Linked DNA regions of Homo sapiens: region 2 is linked to region 1. The links come from fine-mapping of genetic effects on gene expression. Tissue or cell type: pancreas. Region 1 holds a variant in brackets; the other region holds the start of a gene. All regions are shown on one strand. Distances are from middle to middle.

Region 1 (8,000 bases):
AGCTGGGACTACAGGCGTGTGCCACCACACCCGGCTAATTTTTTGTATTTTTAGTAGAGACGGGGTTTCACGGTGTTAGCCAGGATGGTCTCCATCTCCTGACCTCGTGATCTGCCTGTCTCGGCCTCCCAAAGTGCTGGGATTACAGGCGTGAGCCACCGCGCCTGGCCCGACACTTATTTTTTAATTGGAGTACAGTGACGCGATTGTAGGTCACTGCCACCTCAATCTCCTCGGCTCAAGTGATCTTCCTGCCTCAGCCTCCCTAGTACCTGGGACCACAGGCGTGCCCCAGCCACCATGCCCAGCTAATTTTTAAATTTTTGGTAGAGGTGGGGTCTTGCTATGCTGCCCAGGCTGACATATGTTAAGTCTCACAATACTGGGAAATTAAGTGCTAACATTCTCCCCATTTTCTTTTCTTTTCTTTTTTTTTTTTTTGGAGACAGGGTCTCACTCTGTCGCCCAGGCTGAAGTGCAGTGGCATGATCTCGGCTCACTGCAACCTCCGCCTCCTGGGTTCAGGCGATTCTCCTGCCTCAGCCTCTGGAGTAGGTGGGATTACAGGCGCCCGCCACCATGCCCAGCTAATTTTTTTTTGTATTTTTAGTAGAGACGAGGTTTCACCATGTCGGCCAGGCTGGTCTCAAACTCCTGACCTCAGGTGATGTGCCCGTCTCGGCCTCCCAAAGTGCTGGGATTACAGGCGTGAGCCACCGCGCCCAGCCTTCTCCCCATTTTCTAATAGTGGAAAGAGACCTGAGGCTGCAGAGTTTAGATATGAACCCAGGCAGCCAAAACTTTACTGTACATTCCAGTTTATCTGTATGAGCCTCTAGATGAACCCCTTCCTCCAGGGACCTTGCCTGTAAAGGGACAAGAACGTAGGTCTAGGCCTCAGTTTCCACATCTGTTAAATGGGGATGTTGACAGCATCTGCCCTCCAAGTCCCGGATTCTTACTGAGAACCCCATCGATTGTGGAAATGCTTTGGGAAGTTCAAGGCAACGAATAGCCTTCACTGAGTCCTTGTAATTTGAAAGTATCAAAACACGCAGCCATAAGAAAGAACGAGATGGGGCTCACGCCTGTAATCCTAGCACTGTGAGAGGCCGAGGCGGGTGGATCACTTGAGGTCAGGAGTTTGAGACAAGCCTGGCCAATATGGTGAAACCCCGTCTCTGCTAAAAATACAAACATTAGCTGGGCGTGGTGGCACACACCTGTAATCCCAGCTACTCAGGAGGCTGAGGCAGGAGAATTGCTTGAACCCGGGAGGCGGAGGTTGCAGTGAGCCAAAATCACACCACTCACTGCACTCCGGCCTGGGCAACAGAGCAAGACTTTGACTCAAGAAGAAGAAAGAAAGACAAAAGAAGAAAAAGTAAAAGAAAGAAAAGGAGGGAAGGAAGGGAAGGAAAGAAAAAAAGAAAGGAAAGAGAAAGGAAGAGAGAAAAAAGAAGAAATCATGTCCTTTGCAGCAACATGGATGCAGAAAAGAGAGAGAGAGAGAAAGAGAAAGAAAAGAGAGAAGGAAGGAAGGGAAAGAAAGAAAGAAGAAACAAAAGAAAAGAAAAGAAGAAGAAATCGTGTCCTTTGCAGTAACATGGATGCAGCTAGAGGCTTTTATCCTAAGTGGATAAATTTCTGCAGGAACAGAAAACCAAACACTGCATGTTCTCACTTATAAGTAGGAGCTAAACACTGGGTACTCATGAACATAAAGATGGGAACAATAGACACGGGGGATTACTAGAGGGGGGAAGGGTTGAAAAACTACCTATTGGGTACTGTACCCCAGGTGACGGGATCAATTGTACCCCAAACTTCAGCATCACAAGATATACCCATGTACATGGGTACATTCATGTGCACATGAGTCAGAATCTAAAAAGATGAAATTATATTTTAAAAAGTATCAAAACATACTCTTCATTTAGTCTCTGTGAAAGACATTACAAATCACTTTTCAAAAACAATTGTTTTTTCTTTTTTCTTTTTTTTTTTTTTCTGAAATGGAGTCTTGCTCTGTCACCCAGAGCTGGAGTGCAATGGCACAATCTCGGCTTACTGCAACCTCTGCCTCTTGGGTTCAAGCGATTCTCCTGTCTCAGCCTCCCGAGTAGCTGGGATTATAGGAGCATGCCACCAGGCCTGGCTAATTTTTGCATTTTTAGCAGAGATGGGGTTTCATGTTGGCCAGGTTGGTCTTGAACTCCTGACCTCGTGATCTGCCCGCCTCGGCCTCCCAAAGTGCTGGGATTACAGATGTCAGCCACCGTGCCCAGCCTACAATTGTTTTTTCCAAATCGAATATGTTATGAACATAGTAGTTGTCTTTGTAATGGGTACACACACTCACACACACAGAATGATCTGCCTGGTGGGGCAGGGAATTGTAAACATGCCAAAGGGAAAATGAAAAAAGAATCCTGTAGGTTTTCATTATTTTAGGCAATTATGTCCATATCACTTACAAAGCTATTGCCAAATCTGTCTAAGGAAGCAGAGTTTGAAGGTGGGCCGGGGGGGACATCTGGGAGAAATTCGAAAATGGCATAACAGAGCTCTCAATATGAGAAACAAAAGCCCAATATTTTTTTAAAGAAAATATAAACAATCGTATTCGTAGTTAGATGCAAATTCTATTTATGCATACCTGCCAATTCAGTGACATATAAGCAATAGATAACAGATGTCAACTACACATGAGAATTTGGGAGGGACCTCAGAGATAATTACGTTGATTTCCTCAATCTGTAGATGGCCACGATGACTTCCCTAAAGTCACTTAACAACAAGCAGCGCAGGACTACAGCACAATTTTGTCAATCTCAAGAGGGCATGTGTGCTGCTTTGGTTTCTGTGCTAATAAGCTTTCCTGTTTTAACTCATTCCGTTGATATTTACTGAACCGGATGATGTATCAGGCACTGCCCTAGGCAATGAGGATGCAACCTTGAATGACAGGTGCACCCTCCTCATGGAGCTTGCAATCTATAGAGGAGGCAGATGGGCATTGAAATATGGATTAGGGTCAGGCGTGGTGGCTCACACCTGTAATCCCAGCATTTTGGGAGGCAGAGGTGGGCGGATCACTTGAGTCCAGGAGTTCAAGACCAGCCTGGGCAACATAGCAAGACTACGTCGTTAAAAAAAAAAGAGAGAGAAAGAAAGAAATACATGGTGGCGTGCGCCTGTAGTCCCAGCTACTCGGAAGGCTGAGGTGGGAAGATGACTTGAACTCCTGAGGCAAAGGTTGTGGTGAGCTGAATTTCTGCCACCGCACTCCAGCCTGGGTGACAGAGCCAGGCCCTGTCTCAAAACAAAACAAAACAAAACAAACAAACAAAAATGAAAAAATAACAGTGCTTGGCCTGGAGGTATTGTTTACTTCGAGCAGAACATTTGAGATGGAACATATTCTGGGAGGAAGATCAAGAGTTTAAGATTGGGAAGTTTTAGGTTTGAAGTGCCTATGGAGAAAATTTTTTTTGGTGTTTTTGGTTTTGTTTTTTTTGAGACAGGGTCTCACTCTGTCACCAAGACTGGAGTGCAGTGGCGCAATCACAGCTTGCTGCAGCCTCGACCTCCTGGGCTGAGATGATCCTCTCACCTCAGCCTCCCCAGTAGATGGAACTACTGGTGCACACCACCATGCCTGGCTAATTTTTTGTATTTTTTTTTGTAGAGACAGGGTTTTGTCATGTTGCCCAGGCTGGTCTCGAACTCCTGGCCTCAAGCGATCCGCCAGCCTCAGCCTCCCAAAGTGCTGGGATTACCGGTGTGAGCCACCGCACTCAGCCGGATCTCGCTCTGTCGCCCAGGCTGTAGTGCAGTGGCGCAATCTCGGCCCACTGCAACCTCTGCCTCCTGGGTTCAAGTGATTTTCCTGCCTCAGCCTCCTGAGTAGCTGCGACTACAGATACGTGCCACCAGGCCCGGCTAATTTTTTGTATTTTTAGTAGAGACGGGGTTTCACCGTGTTAGCAAGGATGGTCTCGATCTCCTTACCTCGTGATCCACCTGCCTCAGCCTCCCAAAGTGCTGGGATTACAGGCGTGAGCCACTGTGCCCGGCCTCTTTTTTTGTTTTTTTTAACTTTTATTTTAGATTCACGGGGTACGTGTGCAGGTTTGTTATATGGGTAAATTGTGTGACACTGAGGTTTGGAATACGATTGATCCCATCACCCATGTAATGAGCACGGTACCCAATAGGTAGTTTTTCTTTTTCTTTTTTTCTTTGAGACAGGGTCTTGCTCTGTTGCCCAGGCTGGAGTGCAATGGCACGATCTCAGCTCACTGCAACCTCCGCCTCCTGGGTTCAAGTGGTTCGTCTGCCTCAGCCTCCCAAGTAGCTAGGATTACAGGTGTGCACCACCACACCTGGCTAATTTTTGTATTTTAAGTAGAGATGGGGTTTCGCCATGATAGCCAGGCTGGTCTTGAACTCCTGGCCTCAAGTGATCTACCTGCCTTGGCCTCCCAAAGTGCTGGGATTACAGGCGTGAGCCACCATGCCTGGCCCCATTAGGTATTAATAGTTTTCAACCCTTGCCCC[A/G]TCTTCTTCCTTCTTCCCCCTAGTGGTCCCCAGTGTCTATTGATGCCGTCTTTATGTCCATGAGTACCCAATGTTTAGCTCCTGTTTACAAGTGAGAACATATGGTATTTGGTTTTCTGTTCCTGCTCTAAATTCACTTAAGAGAATGGACTCCAGCTGCATCCATGTTGCTGCAAAAAACATGTTTCTTTGTTTCTTCATTTTGTTTCTTTTTATGGCTGCATAGTATTCCATAACATACATGTACCATTTTCTTTATCCAGTCCACCATTGATGGGCACCTAAGCTGAGTTCATGTCTTTGCTCTTGTGAATAGTGCTGCAAGGAACATACGAGTGCATATTTCTTTCTGGTAGAAGGATTTTTTTTCTTTTGGGTAAATACCCAGTAATGAGATTGCTGGGTCAAACTGTAGTTCTATTTTTAGTTCTTTGAGAAATCCAGGAGAAATGTTTAATAGGTGGCTGTAGACACAGTCCTGGAATTCAGCAGAGAAATCTGGGTTGGAATAGAGCCCCAAGAGTGAGTGGCACATTCTAGCAGATGACGTCATAAAGAGGTGCAGGGAAAAGACAAGATGGCCTAAGACCAAGCTCTGAGGAACTCCGACATTTAGAGGTCAGGTGGAGAACAAGTTGCCAAAGGAGAAGCCGGCGAACTAAGAAGAAAATCAGGAGGATGCGGACTTCTGGAACCCAAAAGAAAAGAGTGTTCCAAAAAAGGAATGGGAAACTGTGCTGAAGGCTGCAGAGACATGAAGCAAGCCTGCCCTGAGAAGTGTGCAGTGGATTGGGTAGAAGCCACTGTAGCTCTGCCTACGGCATTTGCAATGGGTGAGTGAGAAATGATGCAGTGGAGAAAAACAACGTGGACCAGACTTTGGGTATCTCAGCTTGGCCGGGGACCATGTACAAAGCTGGTGCAGCAGTGAGAAGAGGAAGTGGAATCAAGATAGTCGGGGTTTTTTAGGCCGGGCGCGGTGGCTCATGCCTGTCATCCCAACGTTTTTGGGAGGCTGAGGCAGGAGGATCGCTTGAGGTCAGGAGTTCGAGACCAGCCTGGGCAACATGGTGAAACCTCATCTCTACTAAAAATACAAAAAATTAGCCAGGCATGGTGGCGTGTGCCTGTAATCCCAGCTACTCAGGAGGGAGGCGGGAGAATTGCTGGAACTCAGATTACAGGGAGTCGAGATTGCACCACTGCACTCCAGCCTGGGCGACAAGAGCGAAACTCCATCTAAAAAAAAAAAAAAAGATATGTATATTTTTTAGGCTGGGCGTGGTGGCTCGTGCCTGTCATCCTAGCATTTTGGGAGGCTGAGGCAAGAGGATCGCTTGAGGCCAGCTTGCACAACACAGCAAGATCTCATCTCTACAAAAAAAATTGTAGAAACCCTGTCTCTACAGAAAAATTACATATATATATATATATATTTTTTTTTTTTTCCTTTTGAAACAGAGTCTTGCTCTGTCACTCAGGCTGGAGTGCAGTGGTGCTGCGATCTCGGTTCACTGCAACTTTCACTTCCCAGGTTCAAGCAATTCTCCTGCCTCAGCCTCCCAAGTAGCTGGGATTACAGGCATGTGCCACCACGCCCAACTCATTTTGATATTTTTAGTAGAGACAGGGTTTCACCATGTTGGCCAGGCTGGTCTCAAACTCCGGACCTCAGGTGATCCAGTCGCCTCAGCCTCCCAAAGTGCTTGGATTAGAGGCATGAGCCGCCGCGCCTGGCCGTTATTTGAGTTTTGATGAGAGCTACTGGAGCTAATTTAGATGGTAATGAGGAGGGCAGGAGGAAAGAGAGAGGAAAAAGAAGTTGGCCAGATGCAAGGAAGGACAGAGTTGCCAGGTGATGACCAATGAGTAGCCAACTTATCTGAGCAGGCAGGACCCTCGAGAGCAAGTGGCGGATGTGGCTCTGATGGGTCACAGGGCCTCCTTCCTCTACCTCTTCTGGCTTCTTAGCATCTCCTCCTCCTCAGGGCACTCTGCAAACATTGTTTTTCCCAGAATACTGACTTTGGCCTCCTCTGCTCACTCTCCATGTTATTCATTGGTGACTTCATCCATTACTGTCTCCAGCCCAGATGTCTCTTCCCCGTGTGCCGACTTGGTGTACATCCAATGGCTGACTGAATATCCCCACTTAGATGCCCGTGGACAGTGGCATGCTGGCATCCGCTCATGCCAGGTCACGAGTGCCCATTGTACACCCAGCTCCTTATTCAGTGAAGGCATCTTGGTAGCAGAAACTTGAAGAGCTGGGCGCGGTGGCTCACGCCTGTAATCCCGGCAGTTTAGGAGGCCCAGGTAGGTGGATCACCTGAGGTCAACATGGTGAAACTCCGTCTCTACTAAAAAATACAAAAAAATTAGCTGGGCGTGGTGGCGGGTGTCTGTAATCCCAGCTACTCAAGAGGCTAAGGCAGGAGAACCGCTTGACCCCAAGAGGTGGAGGTTGCAGTAAGCCGAGATAGCGCCATTGCACTCTAGCCTGAGTGACAAGAGCGAAACTCCATCTCAAAAAAAATAAAATAAAATAAAATAAGATAGTAGGAACTTGAACTCAGCCAAGGTGTGACTGTTTACGTCATGGACATTGGCAAATGCTTCCGATCAGGGCTCCCCCTTTTTGAAGAGCTGGTTGTTAGGAATGGTGGCTCACCACCAGGAGTTTGAGACTAGCCTGGGCAACACAGCGAGACCCCATCTTCAAAAAAAAGATTAAAAATTATCCAGGTTTGGTGGCATGCCTGTAGTCCCAGCAACTCAGGAGGCTGAGGTGAGAGGACTGCTTGAGCCCAGAAGTTGGAGGCTGCAGTAAGCTATGATCGCACCACTGCACTCCAGCCTGAGTGACAGAGCAACACCCTGTCTCAAAACAAACAAACAAAAAACCATTTACTACACACCACTGTTCACAGACATTTCACATTCAACATATTCAAAACTAAGTTAATCATCTTCCCCTGAGCCCAACCCTGCCCAACCTTACCCCTTCCCTGAATATCCTGGCCCAGTTGACAGCACCAGCACCCACTCAGATATTTCCCATGCCTTCCCTCCCCATATCCAAAGGATGGTCAGTTAGGGTATAGGCGAAGCGGCTATAACAAAGAATTCCCCAAAATTCAGTGACTTAACCTCAAAATAGATACTCCAGGACTGTGGGGACATCTCTGCCATCTTTTTTTTCCTTTTGTTTTCTTTTTGTTTTTGTTTTTTTTGAGAGGGAGTCTCGCTCTGTCATCCAGGCTGGAGTGCAGTGGTGCGATCTCACCTCACTGCAACCTCCGCCTCCTGGGTTCAAGTGATTCTCCTGTCTCAGCCCCTGAGTAGCTGGGATTACAGGTGTGTGCCACCACACCCGGCTAAGTTTTGTATTTTTAGCAGAGACGGCATTTCACCATGTTGGCCAGACTGGTCTCGAA
Region 2 (8,000 bases), 26 kb before region 1:
ACATTTCATCAAAGGAAAACACTGAAGAGGAATCTGCCATTAAAAAAAAAAAAGTGGGGGCGGGGCGGGCGTGGTGGCTCATGCCTGTAATTCCAGCACTTTAAGAGGCCAAGGCAGGTGGATCACGAGGTCAGGGGATCGAGACCATCCTGGCTAACACGGTGAAACCCCGTCTCTACTAGAAATACAAAAAATTGGCCAGGCGTGGTGGTGGGTGCCTGTAGTCCCAGCTACTCGGGAGGCTGAGGCAGAAGAATGGCATGAACCCGGGAGGCGGAGCTTGCAGTGAGCCAAGATCGTGCCACTGCACTACAGCCTGGGCATCAGAGGGAGACTCCGTTTCAAAGAAAAGAAAGAAAGAAAAAGGGCCAGGAACGGTGGTTCACGCCTGTAATCTCAGCACTTTGGAAGGCTGAGGCAGGCAGATCACCTGAGGTCAGGAGTTTGAGATCAGCCTGACCAACATGGCAAAACCCATCTCTACTAAAAATACAAGACGCTTGAACCCGGAGGAGCGGAGGTTGCACCACTGCACTCCAGCCTGAGCAACACAGCAAGACTCTGTCTCAAAAAAAAAAAAAAAAAAAAGAAAAGAAAAAGAAAAGAAAGGCAGAGGCTGGCTGTTTGGTCTGCGTGAGACCACTCTTTCATCTCCATTAACCTTCCAAACAAATCTCTTTGTTTAGTTAAAAAGTTTGCAAATTTAGAACACAGACCAAGACATTTTACAGAGCAGCACCTGAACAAACAAAAACACATTAGCTCCAAATGATTTCTTTATTTTGAGATGGAGTTTCGCTCTTGTTGCCCAGGCTGGAGTCCAATGGCGTGATCTCTGCTCACCGCAACCTCCGCCTCCTAGGTTCAAGCGATTCTCCTGCCTCAGCCTCCCTAGTAGCTGAGATTACAGGTACGTGCCACCACGCCTGGCTAATTTTGTATTTTTAGTAGAGACGGGGTTTCTCCATGTTGGTCAGGCTGGTCTTGAACTCCCAACCTCAGGTGATCCACCTGCCTCAGCCTCCCAAAGTGCTGGGATTACAGGTGTGAGCCACCATGCCCGGCCAATTAGGTCCAAGTGATTTCTTTGTAATTTTTAAATTCTTCATGGGAGACTCACAGTTCTTTTTTGTTTTTTATTATATTTTTTCACTTTTCTCTCTTTTTGAGTCAAGAACTCATTTTGTTGCCCAGGCTTCTGGGCTCAAGGAAGGACAAGGTTTATTAGCAGCATGAGAACTGACTAATACAATCACGGTGGAAGACCAGAGGGGTCTCCCTGGATCTCCTGGACACCAATGTGTGACTTTGGACAAGTAATCCCCACCAACTGTAAAGTGTGAACACTGATGCTGAAGTCAGCAGAAATTAAAGCCTATAAACTCCCTCTTTGAGAAAGGAAGCTAGCTGGCAGGGCACGGTGGCTCACGCCTGTAATCCCAACACTTTGGGAGGCCAAGGCGGGAGGATCACTTGAGGCCAGGAATTTGAGACCAGCCTGGCCAAAACGGTGAAACTCCATCTCTACCAAAAATACAAAAATTAGCTGGGCATGGTGGCGCCTGTCTGTAGTCTCAGCTACTCAGGAGACTAAGGTGGGAGGATCACTTGAACCCAGGAGGTGGAGGTTGCAGTGAGCTGAGATCACGCCACTGTACTCCAGCCTGGGCGACAGAGCGAAACTCCGTCTCGAAAAAAATTAAAATATTAAATAAAATATAAAAACAGACAGCAGGACAGGCACAGTGGCTCATGCCTGTAATCCCAACACTTTGGGAGGCCAATATGGAAGGACTGCTTGAGCCCAGGAGTTCGAGAACAGCCCAGGCAACATAGTGATACTTCAGTCTGTACAAAAATTTAAAAGTAAAAAATAATAGCTGGGCCAGGCACAGTAGCTCGTGCCTGTAATCCCAGCACTTTTGGAGGCTGAGGCAGGTAGATCACCTGAGTTCAGGAGTTCGAGACCAGCCTGGCCAACATGGTGAAACCCTGTCTCTACTAAAAATACAAAAATTAGCCAGGCATGGTAGCACACACCTGTAATCCCAGCTACTTGGGAGGCTGAGGCACGAGAACTGCTTGAACCTGGGGTCGGAGGTTGCAGTGAGCTGAGATCACGCCACTGCACTCCAGCCTGGGCAACAGGGTGAGACTCTTTCTCAAAAAAAAAATAAATAATAAATAATACCCGGGTATGGTGGTGTGCCACTCCCTGCAATCCCAGCTACTCGGGAGGCTGAGGAGGGAGGATCACTTAAGCCTAGGAGGTCGATGCTGCAGTGAGCTGATTGTGCCACTGCACTCCAGGCTGGGCAGCAGAGCAAGACCCTGTCTCTTAAATAAATAAAATAGTTAAAAAAGGAAAACAGACAGGAAAACTCCAAGTGCAGAGAAGCCTAGTGGTACTTGGTGGGGGAAACAAAAGTTGTTCCAGGTATAATAGTTCCTGAAGTCAACACTCTATCATGGCAAGACACCAGGCACTCAAATTCCAAGTCATGAACTTACCTTTTCCTTGTTTTGAGGATTACATTGTGTTGGGCGACAGCTCTTTTAGGCTTCTGGGAAGTAAGGTATACATTCTGGAGTAACTTCCAAAGAAAAAGGTGAAAGCATACGCGGAACTTTTGAGCCTTGAAAAAGTTCAGCGAGTCATTCTTGAAAAGTCCTTTTTTTAAACAAAGGGGGTTTCAGTCACCTCACATTTGCATAGCAGTTTCTCTCTTGTCAAAGCCTTTCACATTCACTTATTTTAATTCTTACAGCACTCAAGGAAGAGTGTGGAGTTGGGGGTCGGGGGTTGGGTGCAGAGCAGTGTTAACATCCTTCTGTAAGAGAAACGGAGGCTTTTGAGAGGCCAGGCGTGGCGGCTCATGCCTGTCATCCCGGCACCTTGGAAGGAGGATCCATTTGGGTCCAGGAGTTCCCGGCACTTTGGAAGGAGGATCATTTGGGTCCAGGAGTTCAAGACCAGCCTGGGCAACATGGGGGAAACCCTGTCTCTACAAAAAAAAAAAAAAAAAAAAAAAAAAAGCTGGGCGTGGTGGTGTGCCCTGGTAGTCCTAGCTACTCAGGGTGCTTGAGGCAGGAGGATTGCTTGAGCCCAGGAGGCGCAGGATGCAGTTAACCGTGATCGCGCCACTGCACTCCAGCCTGGGCGACAGAGCAAGACTCTGTCTTGGAAAACAAACAAACAACAAATACAATAAATTAAAAAAATTAGTTGGGTGTGGTGGCACACAGCTGTAGTCCCAGCTACTCAAGAGGCTGTGGCAGGAGGATCCCTTGAGACCAGGAGTTCAAGACCAGCCTGGGCAATGTTATGAGACACGCCACCCGCCCAGTCTTTACAGAGAATAAAAAAGTTATCTGGGTGTGATGGTGCACACCTATAGTCCCAACAATTCAGGAGGCTGAGATGGGAGGATCGCTTGAGACACGGGAGTTGGAGGCTGCCGTAAGCCGAGATCGGGCTAGTACACTGCAGCTGGGGCAACAGAGTGAGACCCTGCTTCAAAAAAATAAATAAATAGGGGCCGGGCGCGGTGGCTCACGCCTGTAATCCCAGCACTTTGGGAGGGCGAGACAGGCGGATCACTTGAGTGGTCAGGAGTTCTAGACCAGCCTGGCCAACAAAAATAAGCCAAACGTGGTGGTGTGTGCTTGTAATCTCAGCTACTCGGGAGGCCAAGGCATGAGAATCACTTGAATCCGGGAGGCGGAGGCTGCAGTGAGCCGAGATCGCGCCACTGGACTGCAACCTGGGGGACAGAGCAACACTCTGTCTCAATAATTAAATAAATAATTAAAAAAATAAAGAGGCTCCTGAGAGTCAACTTATTTGCCTGAGCCACTTATTTCACACATCCCAGGACGCCTGATGAAGGGTTCTGGATTTTATTGTCTCCTGTCATCCAGGCGGGCTTCCTGGAGGAAACCGGACCGCCAGGGAGGCCGCGGCCTCGGTCCCAGAGGTCGCGCGTCGCGGGGCCGGGGGAGGTGGGGGAGAGGAGGCCGCTCTGGGGCCGATCCCGCCCGCAGCTGGGGGCCCCCGTCACGTGACCAGCCGGGCGCCCAGGTCACGTGTCGGGGCGGGGAGGGGGGGGGCTGTCGGGGGCGACGGGCGTCCGGGCAGTGGCGCGCGCGGCACGCGAGCAGCGCACGAGGAGAGGTGGCGCGGGCCGGAGCCGCGGAGGGAGGCGGCGGCGGCGGCGGCGGCGGCGGCGGCGGCGGCGGCGGCGGCGGCGGCGGCGGCGGCGGCGGCGGCGGTGGAAGGGGCGGCCCCGCGGCCCCGCGTCCGCGTCACGTGGTGCGAGGCGGGCAGCCATCTTGCTACAAACACAAACACAGAGGAGCGGCCGCCGCGGGAGCGCCAGCGCCCCCTCCCCCGCTGCTAGCCGCCGTCGCCGTCCCCGGCCCCCGCCCGCCGCGCGCCGCCCACGCCCCGGGACCGGACCCTCGCGCCGCCCGCGGTAAGCGCCCAGTGGCCCCGCGGCCCCCGGCCCGCAGCCCAGCCCCGGGGCAGGCCCGCCCCCGACGCCGCGGCGGCCGCGCCGAGCCCGCGAGCTAGAGAAGCGCCGGAGCCAGCGCGCGGGCCGCCAGCGAGGACCCTCCCCCGTCTCCTCCCCGAGGCCGCCGCAGCCCGGTGCGTCCTCCCGCTCTCCCGCCCGCTCCGGCCCATCCCCGCCGCCGGGACCCTCCCCCAGAGCCGGCCAGCCTCGGGGAGGCCCCGGGAGGCCGGCGCCCGGCTTAGGGGGCGACCGCTCGCCCCCCTCGCACCTGGCGCCCCTCCCTGAAGGGCACGCCGTCCTCCCGGGCCGGCGCGCTGCCTTCCACCCCCGCGCTCCTAACGGTCGCCCCCGGGCCCCTGCCAAGCCCTGCCCTGGGCCGCCTGGGGGCCCCCGACCCTAGCGTCCTAGGGTGGCCGGGCCCCGCGCTTCCCGGAGTTCTCCCCAGCGCGCCTTTGGGTTCCCCTCGGAACGAGCTGGGCCTTGCGGTTCCCCAGGTCCAAGCGTTCCACGACTTTGGCCAACATGGAAGCCTTGCCCTCCACCCAGGCACCTCGCCTGGGTCCTCCTCACCTCTGTTTCCTTTCGCTCCGGCGATCTTAGTGCTGGGTCATTGGGGTCTCCTTCTTCCCAGTTGCTCGGCCGCGGGAAATACCTTCCTTAGCAGAGACTGCTTGTCCTCCCCGTCCCAGGCCAGGCCCTTCTCAGCTCATGCCCCTCCGTGCAGCAGCTCCCTGGCCACAGCTCTCACACTTTGCCTTAAAAAAAAAAAAAAACAAAAAAATTTCCGAGTAACTTTTTAAAAGCCCCTCGTCTCTCTTCTCTGTTATACAGTCATTACTCGCATTCCCGGTCAGACTCCAGGTCTGTTGCATCCTAGTGCTAGGAACTAGGAGATGCTACATAAAGACTTGTTAGCTGGATTGGATTTTTTTTTTCCAGCCACCCAAGCCTTACTTCCCTCCTGCCTCTCAAAGTGTCGTTCTGGAAGATCGTCAGCTTTCCCACCCTCTTGTGCACTGCCTCTTCGAGTCTATATAGAAGTTTCAATTTAGAACCCCGCCAACCCCTCGCCTTTGGCATGGAAACACCATCGGTGGTACCAGTAAGGGTCTCTCCTTTGCTGCCGACATGGGGGATTTGGGGTTCTTTCTCCTTCCCATCTTTCCTGTGCCCTTTGCAGACCTAGGCTAGCCACCCTCCACCAGGCTAGCCAGCTCCAATCTGATTTTCTTAGATTGTAGGTCTTGGTCCCCCAGCGGTCTGTCGTGCCATTGGGAAGGATTTGAGGGTAGACCTGGCCTTGGTGTCCCTGCCATTGCCTGGGGACCAGGGGCCCTGAGGGTCCCACGTGGTGGTTAGTCAAGTGGACCATGTGCTTAAACTTCTGGACTAGCTTTTTCTGCTGTTGGACACATCAGTCTTGTGTTCGTGATCTGATGCGTTAGCCCTAACTTTTACATCTGCTATTGGAATTTGGGAATTAAAGAAAAATAGCCCACTTTAGAGGAGAGAAGATGAGAGGAGGAGGCTAGATGAAGGATGTTGAAAGTCTAACAAATGTAAAATGGCTTCAAACTCACAGAATAATGCTTGCGAGTTTGGGATGGTTACTGCTACCGTGCGCACCTCCAGTCTTGCATAGTGTCAAGGATGTCGGGGCACGCTGTCGGAGCAGCTTCCTCCTTCTTTTCCCTGGCTGGAGCCCAAGGCTGGGCAAGTGGGCAAAAGGGATCACAGGAGGTAAAGAGTGAAAATCCTTTGAAAACTGTTAACTTGTAGACAATTGCCAAGCGGTGGTGTGATTTGCTGGGATGGCTCAGAGAGGAGAGAGCTGGGATAACCGACCAGCCGCGAAGAATGCGGGTTTGCATCTCTTTTTTAAGCCTCAGCGTCCTCACCCTACCACGCTTGGAGAATCTCCATCCTGAGAAAGGGCCAGGTCCCCTCCAGCAGGCCTGGGGCTGGGCGGTTGTTCCAGTGTTGAGGAATTGGGGACTGTGCTTCTGTTTAAGTGGCTCTGTTCTGTGCCAAGGCACAGTGCTCTGTGTTGGAGCTAATTTTAGGGGTGATGGAGTGAGGAGATAATGTTCTTAGCTGAATGTGCACTGGGACCGCCTGTTCTCTGTCTTTTCTTTCTCTCTTGAGTTCTGAGCCCCAGAGAGCAGGCTCCCTTTCCCGCGCGCCCTGGCGCCTACTGGAGCACCCGGGCCCAGCGTGTCCTCGCCCCTTGTCTCCGGCAGGGGGCAGTCTTTCAAAAGCATTGATTCAGATGCTGGGGGAGTGAGGGTAGACAGGCCCGAGAAAGAGAAGGGGTGGGGAAGGGGCGAGGAGCCGAAGTAGGCCGAGGCTTGAGGGCAGGGCCAGGGCGGGGGACAGGCTGGAAGGGGCCTGTGAGAAGGAGACCCTGAGCTGAGAAAGCTCAGCCGGGTAAGCTGAGACGGGCAGGTGGCAGTACCCCAGCCCCCGCCACCTCCTGCTCTTACCTTCATTGGACAGGGATCAGATACCTGGCCCTGAGAGCTTGCAATAGACAAACTTAGGCAGTTTTTCTTAAAAAAAAAAAATCTATTCTTTTCTCAAAGATTTTCTCCTGGCAGGATTTCAGATTTCCCTCGTGGGACAGTGTAATTAGGGAATGATGTCCCTGCTGTTCAGAGAGGAGAATGACCCAGCGTGCACACACCTGCCTTCCCTTGCCTTCCCCTTGGCCCAGTAGACCCCCAAGGGCTGTGCCCATGCTCGTGGCGCAGAGGAGGGTGTCTCAGCACTGGCGCACTTGGTATCTGGAGTCACATAGCTCTTGGCTGTGGGGCTGCCCTGTGCACCCCCTGCCCAGTGGTGACAACCCAGAATGTCTCTAGACTTGGCCAAGAGCCCCCTGAGGAGCAGAGGTGCCCCCAGTCCAGAACCTGTTGGAGGGTGGGAGCCCCATGGTGGCCTGCAGGTGTGCCACTAGTTCCTTTAGTCCAAGGAAGGGGCCAGGCACCATCAGCTTCCGGCACCAGACCCTGCTGTGGGGGTGCCTAGAGAGTTAACCTCACTCTCCTGGTTTCTTCCCAAGAAGGCGGGTGGCATGGGCTTTTTCCTGCTCTGGGCCTGCTCTCTCCCCTGTCTTGGTGTCGCTGTCCTCAGTCTGCATGAACCATTCCCCCTTTGTGTGCCCCTTGCAGCCAAGACACAGCCAGGATGGGTGACTTGAGCCGGAGGCACCTAGGAGAGCTGCCCTTGCTGCGCCTGGCAGGGGGCAGTGTGAGGCCATCGCTTTAAATTTTTTTTTTTTTTTTTTTTTGAGACAGAGTCTTGCTCTGTTGCCCAGGCTGGAGTGCAGGGGCGCAATCTCAGCTCACTGCAACCTCCGCCTCCTGGGTTCAAGCGATTCTCCTGCCTCAGCCTCCCGAGTAGCTGGGATTAGAGGCACCTACCACCAGGACTGGCTAATTTTTGTATTTTTAGTAGAGACAGGGTTTTGCCACGTTGGCCAGGCTG

Direction of the effects. Alleles are on the strand shown, and positions count from the first base shown. SD is a standard deviation of normalised expression in the study named.
As copies of A replace G in region 1, the expression in pancreas of the gene that starts at base 4,335 in region 2 goes up (moderate effect, 0.48 SD a copy in GTEx).

What was found. PIP is the estimated chance that this variant, and not a neighbour inherited with it, causes the effect.
Region 2: GIGYF1 starts here. The variant in region 1 is fine-mapped to the expression of GIGYF1 in pancreas (GTEx, PIP above 0.99).

Annotation. Positions count from the first base shown.
Region 1 is chr7:100,665,022-100,673,021 of GRCh38, reverse strand. LOC105375429 (a long non-coding RNA gene) reads right to left here. Exons shown (of 3, transcript NR_133946.1): 3 at 6,596-6,920. Among named protein-coding and RNA genes, the nearest start is that of GNB2, 4.7 kb to the left of the region's middle. The variant A/G (reference allele first, on the strand shown) is at 4,564.
Region 2 is chr7:100,690,585-100,698,584 of GRCh38, reverse strand. It overlaps GIGYF1 (GRB10 interacting GYF protein 1), which reads left to right and starts at 4,335. Exons shown (of 27, transcript NM_001375765.1): 1 at 4,335-4,475. RefSeq lists an enhancer at 2,426-3,229, silencers at 3,917-4,076, 4,517-4,616, 4,787-4,906, 6,669-6,838 and a cis regulatory region at 3,768-5,261.